3 linked regions of the Homo sapiens genome follow. The protein of the gene in region 3 purifies or fractionates together with the protein of the main gene of each other region. This does not show direct contact. Each region holds a gene or a part of one and is shown on either strand. Other genes may lie near its edges.

Evidence for each region.
Region 1: the proteins of EHMT2 (region 3) and CTBP1 purify together in Homo sapiens (affinity purification with mass spectrometry; 6 studies listed by BioGRID and IntAct, with this or other methods). This does not show direct contact.
Region 2: the proteins of EHMT2 (region 3) and MIER1 purify together in Homo sapiens (co-immunoprecipitation; 3 studies listed by BioGRID and IntAct, with this or other methods). This does not show direct contact.

Annotation. Positions count from the first base shown.
Region 1 is NC_000004.12:1,235,405-1,239,148, forward strand, and holds part of CTBP1 (C-terminal-binding protein 1), read right to left. Parts: intron 2,934-3,744; coding exon 2,779-2,933; intron 2,774-2,778; exon of another isoform or gene 1-2,773. UniProt on the Homo sapiens protein: Corepressor targeting diverse transcription regulators such as GLIS2 or BCL6. Has dehydrogenase activity. Involved in controlling the equilibrium between tubular and stacked structures in the Golgi complex.
Region 2 is NC_000001.11:66,923,275-66,927,018, reverse strand, and holds the start of MIER1 (mesoderm induction early response protein 1), read right to left. Parts: upstream 2,030-3,744; 5' UTR 1,991-2,029; coding exon 1,924-1,990; intron 1,687-1,923; exon of another isoform or gene 1,485-1,686; intron 878-1,484; coding exon 777-877; intron 686-776; exon of another isoform or gene 647-685; intron 1-646. Other genes in the region: DNAI4 (dynein axonemal intermediate chain 4), read left to right, coding at 2,188-2,357. UniProt on the Homo sapiens protein: Transcriptional repressor regulating the expression of a number of genes including SP1 target genes. Probably functions through recruitment of HDAC1 a histone deacetylase involved in chromatin silencing.
Region 3 is NC_000006.12:31,896,034-31,899,777, forward strand, and holds the start of EHMT2 (histone-lysine N-methyltransferase EHMT2), read right to left. Parts: upstream 1,666-3,744; 5' UTR 1,645-1,665; coding exon 1,603-1,644; exon of another isoform or gene 1,533-1,602; coding exon of another isoform or gene 957-1,532; coding exon 890-956; intron 792-889; coding exon 573-791; intron 484-572; coding exon 230-483; intron 1-229. UniProt on the Homo sapiens protein: Histone methyltransferase that specifically mono- and dimethylates 'Lys-9' of histone H3 (H3K9me1 and H3K9me2, respectively) in euchromatin.

The sequences.
Region 1 (3,744 bases), on a different chromosome or scaffold from region 3:
TGCTGTCATCATCACTTCCAACCCCTTCCCTCTCCTGTTCTGAAGTTTCTGCAAGAGCGACCCTTCCTCATCTCGCCCTCTCCCGCGTTCTCTCCTTCCCTCCTGTCCGCTGCCGCCTGGTCAGCTGGTAAACCCGCCCCTCAGTTCCACCGATCAGCTTCGCCGTTTTCTCAGATCCGCATCTCATTTTCTCCCCTAACGCTGCTACGCCCCGTTCCAGAGTCATCAGCTCTTCGTCGGTGTCTGGCCCAGCCTCCTGGGGGCTGGGCTGGGGTGATCGGCTCGTGGGCAGCACGGGGAGCTCCTGCGGGTGGCACTGCTTCCCTGGCTTCTGCGTTTTGCGCATCTCCTTGACTGCCTGGTTACCTCTGTTTGCATGTGATGGACCCCGCACCAGATGGTGATTTGTAGAAATGACCCGAGGCCTCGGCTGACGCTGTCTTCCTCTAAAGGGGCCGTCTTACTTCTTTTGCCAGGCACCTGGGGCCGGCAGTGCGGGGTCCCCAAAAATCCAGATTCAAGGTTTCCTGGACATCAGCAGGCTGGGTGCCGATCGTGTGGCGCGTCAGAGTCCAGGTCACCCTCACTCCAGATGTCACCTTTCAGGCCATGGATATCCCGGCAGGGCCCCACACCCAGCAGGCCAGTGATGCCACCAAAGCCAAATTCAGCCTCTCAGCTACTTCTTCCAGAACAGCCAACACCCCAGGCCAGAGTTGGCAAGGCCCGCCCGTTCCTGCAGGTTATAGGCCTCTCCAGGCTGCAGCCTGGGCCTGGCCCTATCCTGTGAGCTCCTGGGGGCCCAGCTTCTTCGTCTGTCTTCAGGGAAAAGCTGCTCTGAATCACTGATCCCTGGCTACAAGTAGAAGCCAGACCAACCTAGTTCTCATCACGGAGGAGCCTGTGGGTCTCCTGAGCAAACAAGAATCAGGAAAGCTGCCCAAAGGCTGCTCACTGCTGGACCAAAGCCAGGCCGCGGGCAATGCCGAGACCGCCCGTGTGAAGACCGCCGCGCAACTGGGGCCGGGGGAAGCACCTTACTCCACCCCCGCCACAAAAGCTGGCATCCCGAGGACCTGCTCTCTGGGAAAAAACTGAAAATGAATCAAGAAGCCACAGGGCAAACCCGGTGTCCACCTCCTGATGGGGCTCAGGACAAACCGAGTGTCCACCTCCTGATGGGGCTCAGGACAAACCCCGTGTCCACCTCCTGATGGGGCTCAGGGCAAACCCGGTGTCCACCTCCTGATGGGGCTCAGGGCAAACCCGGTGTCCACCTCCTGATGGGGCACAGGGCAAACCAAGTGTCCACCTCCTGATGGGGCACAGGGCAAACCAAGTGTCCACCTCCTGATGGGGCTCAGGACAAACCCGGTGTCCACCTCCTGATGGGGCTCAGGGCAAACCGAATGTCCACCTCCTGATGGGGCTCAGGACAAACCCGGTGTCCACCTCCTGATGGGGCTCAGGGCAAACCGAATGTCCACCTCCTGATGGGGCTCAGGGCAAACCCGGTGTCCACCTCCTGATGGGGCTCAGGGCAAACCCCGTGTCCACCTCCTGATGGGGCTCAGGAGAAACCGAGCGTCCATCTCCTGATGGGGCACAGGGCAAACCCAGTGTCCACCTCCTGATGGCGCTCAGGACAAACCGAGTGTGGGGCTCAGGGAAAACCCCGTGTCCACCTCCTGATGAGGCTCAGGAGAAACCGAGTGTCCACCTCCTGATGGGGCACAGGGCAAACCGAGTGTCCACCTCCTGATGGGGCTCAGGATAAACCGAGTGTCCACCTCCTGATGGGGCACAGGGCAAACCGAGTGTCCACCTCCTGATGGGGCTCAGGACAAACCGAGTGTCCACCTCCTCATGGGGCTCAGGGAAAACCCGGTGTCCACCTCCTGATGGGGCTCAGGACAAACCGAGTGTCCACCTCCTGATGGGGCTCAGGGAAAACCCCATGTCCACCTCCTGATGGGGCTCAGGGAAAACCCCGTGTCCACCTCCTGATGGGGCTCAGGACAAACCCCGTGTCCACCTCCTGATGGAGCTCAGTGAAAACCCGGTGTTCACCTCCTGATGGTGTGCAGGGAAAACCCCGTGTCCACCTCCTGATGGGGCTTAGGACAAACCCCGTGTCCACCTCCTGATGGGGCTCAGGACAAACCCTGTGTCCACCTCCTGATGGGGCTCAGGGAAAACCCGGTGTTCACCTCCTGATGGGGCTCAGGACAAACCCCGTGTCCACCTCCTGATGGGGCTCAGGACAAACCCCGTGTCCACCTCCTGATGGGGCTCAGGACAAACCCCGTGTCCACCTCCTGATGGGGCTCAGGGAAAACCCCGTGTCCACCTCCTGATGGGGCTCAGGACAAACCCCGTGTCCACCTCCTGATGGGGCACAGGGCAAAACGAGTGTCCACCTCCTGATGGGGCTCAGGGAAAACCCCGTGTCCACCTCCTGATGGGGCACAGGGCAAACCGAATGTCCACCTCCTGATGGGGCTCAGGACAAACGTGGTGTCCACCTCCTGATGGGGCACAGGGAAAACCCCGTGTCCACCTCCTGATGGGGCTCAGGGCAAACCCGATGTCCACCTCCTGATGGTGTCCAGGGAAAACCCCGTGTCCACCTCCTGACGGCGCGGGACGACTGGGACAGAGGCTGCTCCTGCCCCAGTGGCACCCAGACCTGCTGTGGCCCGGGCCTGCCGTGCTCCCGTCCCTCCAACTCCCCCCAACGTGCGGTTCTGCCAGCCCCAGGCGACCACGTGGTGGTACCTTCTCATGGATCTCCTGCGTGGACTGCGCGTCGCAGAAGGCCACAGTGGCCACGTCCTTCAGGATGGGCATCTCCACTGTGCAGTCCCGGCCATCCAGCAATGCCACCAGGGGCCGCGGGTGCAGGGGCCCGTTCATGATCGGAGGTCGGACGCCTGCAAGACAGAGGCAAGTGCTCAGCCTTGCACCACTGCGGCCCCGTGGCTACAACCCACTCCACGCCACCCACTGTGCACGGGCCAACGAGGGCCGACCGCCGGGGGTTTTCTGGTCTATATGTTGTGATATTTGTAAAAAGTAAATTAAAAATCCACGTGAAAGACAACTCGTGTGTGCCTCAGCTCGCTGACTCAAGTGGACACAGACTGTGGACACCCACTACCATCTCCCTTGGGCACAGGACCTCCGAGACCCTCCAAGTCCCCTCCGAGACCCTCCAAGGCCCCTCCGAGATCCTCCCAGACCCTCTGAGACCCTCTCACACCCTCCAAGACCCTCCGAGACCCCCCAAGAAATCTCCAGACCCTCTGAGAACCTCCCAGACCCTCTGAGACTCCCCAAGACATTTCCAGACCCACCGAGACACCTCCCGACCCTCCTAGGCCCTCCAAGACCCTCTGAGACCCCCCGAGACCCTCCCAGACCGTCCGAGACCCCAGGGCAGCTCCATGAGGCAGGGGGACAGGAGGGACCCAGGACACTGGAGGACACAAGATGACAGCACGGGACTTTGGGAACATGGTTGTCCCTTTCCTGCCTGGGCTACCGCGTGGCTGCCCGGAATCCCTGATGGGGTCACCAGTGTTTCACGTAGGACGCCCCCAACCCTCTGCCTGGCATTACTTCCAATTATAGATGTGAAGAGAAAAGAAACAGAACAAAGGAAGAAAAGGGTTAAAACCTGTTAAAGTCCACTCTGTGCCCCTGACCTTCCCAGAACCAGATGATTAAAGCTCATTAACACCC
Region 2 (3,744 bases), on a different chromosome or scaffold from region 3:
GAACAAACTTCTTTGGCAATTTACATATACCTAAGAAATATAACCTTTTATTCAGTACCAACACCTGATTCAAATACAAGTAACATATATATATATACTATATAAACCTATCTGTTATGCAATCCAAAAAGGTACCTCTCAAAATGCACCAAGAAAATACTGTACTTATAACAATTTAGACTCTGGGGTTAGCTGACTGAAATAGATTAATACAACACATCCAAAACTAAAAAATTCTATATCTAACAATTTTCAGCGTCCATGAGTCTCTTTTGAGATTAGTTTATAAACTATTTCCTGAAATTTTTATTTAAAAGCAACAGCCTACACCATGTCTTTATGATGTGGTGGTAAAATTTTATGGATAATTACTAATTTGGTTGAAAATACCTACATCTAAAAAACTTAGCCTATTACATTTGGAAGCCCCACATCTATAGTGACAATCAGCATCATCTTTCGTTAGTTTCATTTTTTGTTATTAATGCCACTCTAAAACACTTATATAGGCTTTTGGTTCTTCAAATAACAGTTTTGGATTTTCTTTTCATAATTTTTACAGTTTTATCCAGTGGCCCCATTTTATCAGAATATTACAAACTATGATTATGGTTTTTACATTGATGACATGTTATTTTTATCTCACCCAAATTCTGGAAATTTTTGGCCCATCAGTTCTCAAACACTGGAACATATAAGAAGAGTAATATAATCTTATATTACTTGAGGGAGTTTGGATTTTCCCTCCCTTAATCTCCAAGTGTACCCCTGCCTACCAGCATCACATCCGTCTTGTCTGCATTGAACCTCAACCAGTTGGTTCTTAACCACGTCCGAAACTCAGCCAGGCACTGGGAGAATCGAGCGACCACACCATCTGGATCAAAGGAAAGAGAGCCTCAGTAGCAAGGAGACAGAAACGATGATACAAGCTCACCATCCACCCTGTTTCGCATTTTTAAAAAGATGGTCGGGAATCAGGACAAGGATCCCATGACAATTTTAGAAAAACATTTAATGAGCCTTAAGTCATGCAATTTGTAACTAATGATAAAGGAATAAAAGCGACCCAATAAATAGGTCGCCTCATTCCACCCATAAGTGAAGAAGGTTCAGTCAACTCCGGGTCATCTTGGTGAAGCGGCCTCAATAGCCAAGTCAATCTTGTAATTACATAAGTTCTTCTGCAGAAATGCAGAATTCTAGCGTTGGAGGAAGCTTTAAATAGGGAAAACTGAAGCCCAGAGAGGGATAGTGACTCGCTCAAGGTTACACAGCATGCAGGGACCACAGATAGGCTCCAGGCCAGGGACCTAGCCACTACAAGCTGAAAGAACAAGAGTAAAGAGCGGCGGGCATCTGTCCCAAGGGATCCTCCCACGCGCTAGGAGGACCTCGTTTCCTTACAGTAATACCCTATTCGAGTCTCTCCTCCCTCCCTGACTCCATCCGAAAAGGGCAAGTTGGCCCAGGGCGCTGCTCACCATAAAGGCTGCAGTGCAAGCGAGAGCCTCCCGGGGATGGGACACAAGTGAGGGAAATACAGGAGAAAGAGGCGGAGCCACAGCAGGGTGGTCAGCTTAGCCCCACCCCGACTGGGATCAGGGACCGAAGCGAACGGGGCGAGGCGAACTCACTCCGCAGCGGATTCCCAGCGCGGCGCCACCACCGCGAAGGCAAAAAGGCGGCGCTGGGAGGCAGTCGATGGCCAGAGGGAGGAAGCTGCGCATGCGCCTTTGGCAGCCGGCGGAGAGCAAGCCAGGCGCGTTCTGCGGCAGCCCCTCCCCGGAAGTTAAGGGTCTTCCGGGCGGTACACTGCCGTGGGGGAGGGGAAGGAGAGAAAGGGGACTGAGGACACCTCAGGAGCCCCTCATCCCAAACTGGAATAGAAGGGGAGAGATGGCTTGTGGAGGCTGCACTTACAGCCGCTGCCGCTGCTGCCGCCGCCACCTTCGCTGCTGCCGCCACCGCCTGAAGAAGCCCCATCCATCCGCCTGCAGCCGGGAGACTCAGAGCCTGGGAGGGGCCTGAGGCCCGGGCCGCCCGCCTCCTTCTTCCAGTCGTCGTCCGGAGCTTCCTCCAGCTCCACCAACCCTCTGCCCTCCCCTCCGCCTCCGCCCTCCTCCTCGGCCTCGTGCCGCCAGCCAACCGCGCGGCCGCTTGTTGAGCCAGGGCTCCACCGTCGCCATGACGCCCGGCAAACATTCCGGAGCCTCGGCCCGAGCCGCTAACGGAGGAGCTTGGGGGTACAGGGACTTCAGAGGCGGCCAAAAAAAGGGGTGGTGCACCACTCCCCAGCTGGTCGCCACCATGCCAGTCTCTCCGGCAGGCAGTCACAAGCAGCAGAACTTCGGGTTGTAAGTTCCGGCGCTAAAAACCGTAGTCCATCCCCCTGGGACCCGGAGGGAGCCCTTCTATTAATAGATACCATTTCTGGATTTGGAAAGGGGCCCTACCCTAACTGGGTTCAGTCTGTAGACCTTGAAGCTCCTAGGCCACAATGTCTCCTTTATCGACCTACCGCAGTCTTTAAAAGAATCTCTACTGGGCTGGGCGCGGTGGCTCACACCTGTAATCCCGGCACTTTGGGAGGCCGAGTGGGGTGGATCACCTGAGGTCAGAAGTTAGCGTCCAGGCTGGCCAACATGGTGAAACCCCGTCTGTACTAAAAATACAAAAAGTTAGCCGGACGTGGTGGCACATGCCTGTAATCCCAGCTACTTGGGAGGCTGAGGCAGGAGAATCCCTTGAACCCGGAAGGCGGAGGTTGCAGTAAGCCGAGATCGTGCCGTTGCACTCGAGCCTGAGCAACAGAGCGAGACTCTGTCTAAAAAATAAGATAAAATAAATCTCTATTGCTGTGCTTGCTGTGTGAGAAAAGACCTGGTTTAGAACCATCGTTCTAGCACTTCTAGTTTGTTAAGGCCTGCAGTCTCTCAAGCTTGATGCTTTCATGCTGTGCCCAGACGTTCAAGAGCCTCAGCTTCTGTGAGCCACCAGGCCGAACATTGCTGTGCTCTGTAGTAGAGGTATTTTATTGTCGTCTCGTCAATACCATCTTACTTTAAAACTAATTCCTGCTTCCAACATTCTGTTGTTATGCAGCAGTTGAACAAGACTGTAGAAAAGCACACAGCTGTGTGGACTTGTCTTACTTTAAATGGTTCCTTAGCGCTGCCCGTAATGCTGCCCACTAAGTTCCCCCAAAATTCCCTAAGTAATTTGTTTTCTCTTCCCCTCTCCAATCTCCTCCACCTCAGCTAATCTTTCTTCAGCGGAACTTGTTGAGAGTTCTTGGGAGAGAACCTTGCATTCTCTCTTGAATATGGTACTCACGCTTTTGTCCATCCTACCACTCCATCAAAACAGCTTCTATGAAAGCCAGCAATAGCCATGCAACCAAATACAATGGCTGATCCACAGTTTCATTCTTTTTGAATGAAGCAGTGTCGGTCGGGTTTATCGCTTCTCGATCTTTGAAAAGCTTTATTTGGGTTCTGAGAAACCACTCTTCCTAGTTCTTGTCTTGGTTCATGGTTTCACCTTTCCCAGATCCTTTGCTGGTATCTGTTCCTCACTACCATAACTAAATACAGTCATGCATCGATGGTGATACCTTCTGAGAAATACCTTGTTAGCCAATTTCAGCATTTTGCAAATATCTTCTAGTGTACTTACACAAACGTAGATGTATGGGCTACTATACACCTAGGCTACAATTGTATAGTAGACTGTACACCTAAG
Region 3 (3,744 bases):
ATATAATTGACTCTTTAACATCAAACTTTCACCACCCAAGAATGTAAACTGCAGGAAGAGAGGAACCTGTCTGTTGGTTCACAGATCAAGCACAGCCTAATATTTGACACACAGCAGCCCCTTGCTTAAATATGTGAATGAGTAAATGGAGTAGAAGCCTTAAGTGAAACTGTAAAAGAGCTCACCAAAGGTTTATGGTTGATTATCCCATCTCTCCCATCCCACTCACCTGTCCATTTCCTGGTTTGGACATGGTTTTGCGGGCTCGGTGGACCTTGGGCTGTCCCTCTGGGCTCGTGGTGGCTGGAGGGGGTTCAGACCCTGCTGCTGCAGCTCCCTGGGCTCCTGGCATACTCAGTAGCCTCATAGCCAAACTCTGGACAGATGGAGGTGATTTTCCCGCCCCTGTCATTGACATCTTGGCCCGGCTAGGACAGGAACCCCCCTTGCTGGGGGAAGAGGGGAATGACTTTGTGGCATGGCCTAGAAAACAGGCAAGCAAAAGGCAAGATAAGAAAGAAGGCAAGAGTCAGAAATTTCCCACCAACCCCCCAGGCTACCCAGCCTCTCACCCAGCAGGATCCGGCCCCCACGGAGGTCCCCATCTCCCTCAAGATTCTCAGATTCATCCCCAATGAGTGGTGTAGCCCCTACAGGGGTGTCAGCCCCCTCATCACCAACAGTGACAGTGACAGAGGCTGGAGATGAGGGGCCAGCAGGCTCCAGGGAGTCGGGGGTGGCCTTGGGCAGGGTTTCTTCACTACGAGGGGTGTCCCCCAAAGAGCCATGAACTGTAGAGGAAGAGAAAAAGTTCAGAGCTAAGGGCTCAGGAGATCCTGTGTTTAGGGAAGGTGACGGTCCAATTGGGGCCCGTTTTAGCTGCACTCACCTCTCTCGGTGGCTCCTCTGGTTTCCTTCTCCAGCAGCAGCGCCCCCATCTCAGCGGGGGCCTCCCCCTGGGAGGGGAGACAAGGGACAGGAGGGCTGGTCAGCCCAGTAGAGAGTTGGGGGGTCCAGGATGCCTGGGCCCTGGGAAGAGAGAGTAGGCTCCGGGGCCTACCTCTTCCTCTGTGGGGCCCCCCCCTTCCGCGGCCTCGGCTGCCCGGAGGGGCCGCACGACCCCTCCCCCGGGCCCGCATCAACCCCCTCCCTCTCGGTAGACCCCGCATCTCTGGGGCCGAGAGAAGAGGAGGGGGAGGGGGCGGGGCCTCCGCGCCCCGGCCCCGCCCCCTCCTCCCGGCTGCACGCGCCGCTCCCCCTTTGTCCCCCAGGCCGCGGGGACCCCGGGCACCAACCCCTCCAGCACCCGCTGCCCCCCAGCCCGGTGGACGGCCCCTCGTGCCCCTCACGCGTGCTCCTGGGGCCCCGGCGCCCGTCGCCCACTCAGGGGCAGCCGGCGGCTGCACGCGCGCCTCCGTGCCCACTCCCCCCACCTCCCACACCCTGGTCCCCTCATCCGCCCCCGGTGCTGGCCCCCTGGATTGCTGCAAGTCCCGCCCGGGCCCCCCGGCCCCGTTGCACCCCCGGAGCATTGCACGGGCGCGCGCTTCCCCCGGGCGCGCGCGCGGGCATGCACCCGCCTCTCCCCCTCCCCTTCCGCACCTCGGCGGCCGCCGCCGCTGCAGCTCCCGCCGCCGCCGCCATCGCCGCTTGCGCTGGGGGCCGAGCCGGCGCGCGGCCGCCCCGGGTCACGTGGGCGAGGGAGGGAGGGCGAGGAGGAGCCTTAAAGGAGCCGCTACATGCTTTTTGGCCATTTTCCCCTGAGAGCGGCCTCGGAGATGGCTGTGACTGTCCTAAGCTGGGAGCTGCAAGGGAGAATTCCTGTCATTCCTGGCCTCAGTTCTGCAGGGACCGAGGGCGAGACACGCCTGGGCCCAGGTGTGGCGTCTCTGTCCCCATCTGGTTTTAGGTAACAAGCGGAGCTTCTGAACTTCTCGGCTCTCGGCAGCGGCTGTATTTCCTCTGGCCTGGTTGGGCTTTTCCCGCCTCTGGTTGCTTTTCTGCCTTTCTAGTTTTTGGGTTACCAGATAGAAGGCTTGGCCTCAGTTTTGGCCTCGCCTTTTTGCTCTTTCTAACGAGCACGAAGGGGCGATAGGGACGCGGAGGACACCTTTATTCTTGGCTGGTTCTAGCATGCTGCTTCATGTCCCCTGGAGCAGCGTGCCCTTCTGAAAACCTGTGGCTAAATGTCTCTTCTGTTTATATCAGGCGTGTTACACCTTCACACGCACTAGGGATCCAGGTAAGCCCAGCGGCCCGAACGTCATTACTGACTGGTGACACTGCAGTAAGTAAACCTTTTTTGCCGAACACTTCATAAGCACAGTCAGGTACTCCGTGGGTCATAGCCCAGCGGACAATTTAAGTATAAATGATATACACCAAGATAGACAATCTCGATAGCTGTATTTAGGGTACCATCCCTTTAGGTATTACGTTTTGGTCGAGTTTGGAAAAGATCTGTATGATTTCACACGCAGTATTTGACACAGGCAGGTGGGGCACCTGAGGCCAATTAAAGGCCTTCTGGGAACTGTAGTTCTCTTTGGTTAACTATTCCAGAGCTTTCTGGGAATTGTAGTTTTCCCTGCACCTTAATCCAAACTTAGCTTTTTTTTTTTTTTTTTAGCTTTCCTGAAGACATGACCTATTTACCCCAGACAAAATATGACCAAACAGACTCCTGCTTACAATTTCCGTGGGCAGGTTGGCCACCTGTAGCTCATCCCTAGCACTGATCCTAAGTCCCTCAAATAGAGTTCATGTGCATCCCCACGACTGCCAATCACTTGTACTGTGAGGTACCTGGCTAAGTGTTGAGATTGCAGAACTGGTGGAGGGCTGGGGGTGGGGACTTGGGGGAGTCCCTGACCAGAGGAGCTCACTTGTCACACTCCTCTCCCATGTTTAGGGCTGGGCTCCTTCAGGCAAGGGATATGCAGAGTTGTGACCTCTAGGTATTAAGAACGCAGCATCACAGGGAGAGGCTGTCTAGGGCAGGATAGTCATGTACACGCAGTTGCCAGAGTGTAAAGGAAAAAAAAAAGTTTTTTTTTGTTTTTTATTTTGTGGAAAACAAAAGCAGAAAAACTAAAACCCCAAACTCCAGAAAAAATCCTAAAAAATATGTTTTTTCTTAAAAAATACTGTATGTCTCTACTCCTCTCCCTCCCTCCCAACAGCCCTTCTTGTGTTCTTTCTTTTCTAAGTGCCCTATCCCCCCCACCCCCATGACTATCCATTGTTTCTTGCTATTGTACCCCCACTTCCCAATATCTACCCAGGATGCGCACCCCACGTTCTCTTACCTGGCGTCTTACTTTGTTCTCCCTCAAATTTCAGCAAGCCTCATACTCGCAGTCTCATTTCCCCAGCATGCAAGAACTGTCTCCCACTTCCTTTTCTGGGACTCAGTAATCTTTTCCCCTTACCACTCCCTCACCCCAGGTCTATTCTAAGCAGGAGCATGTCCTCCTGCCAAATTCCCTCCCTGTTCCCACCCACCCCCCAACCCTTCTTATCTCGAGAAATGTCAGAACCTTCCCCTGGGCAGCCTTAGCCAGGAATAAAACATTTTTGTCTTCCCTCATTCTATAGGACCCTTTTCCCTCCCTCCACATATACATGCACTTCTAAGAGAAGGAAATCTTTCTCTGGGACCCCGTATTCCCCTGGCCTCCAAGAACCCTTTTCCCAGCTCCAGATTCTTGCACTCTCAAGAGCAAGTCTCTCCAAGGAATCATC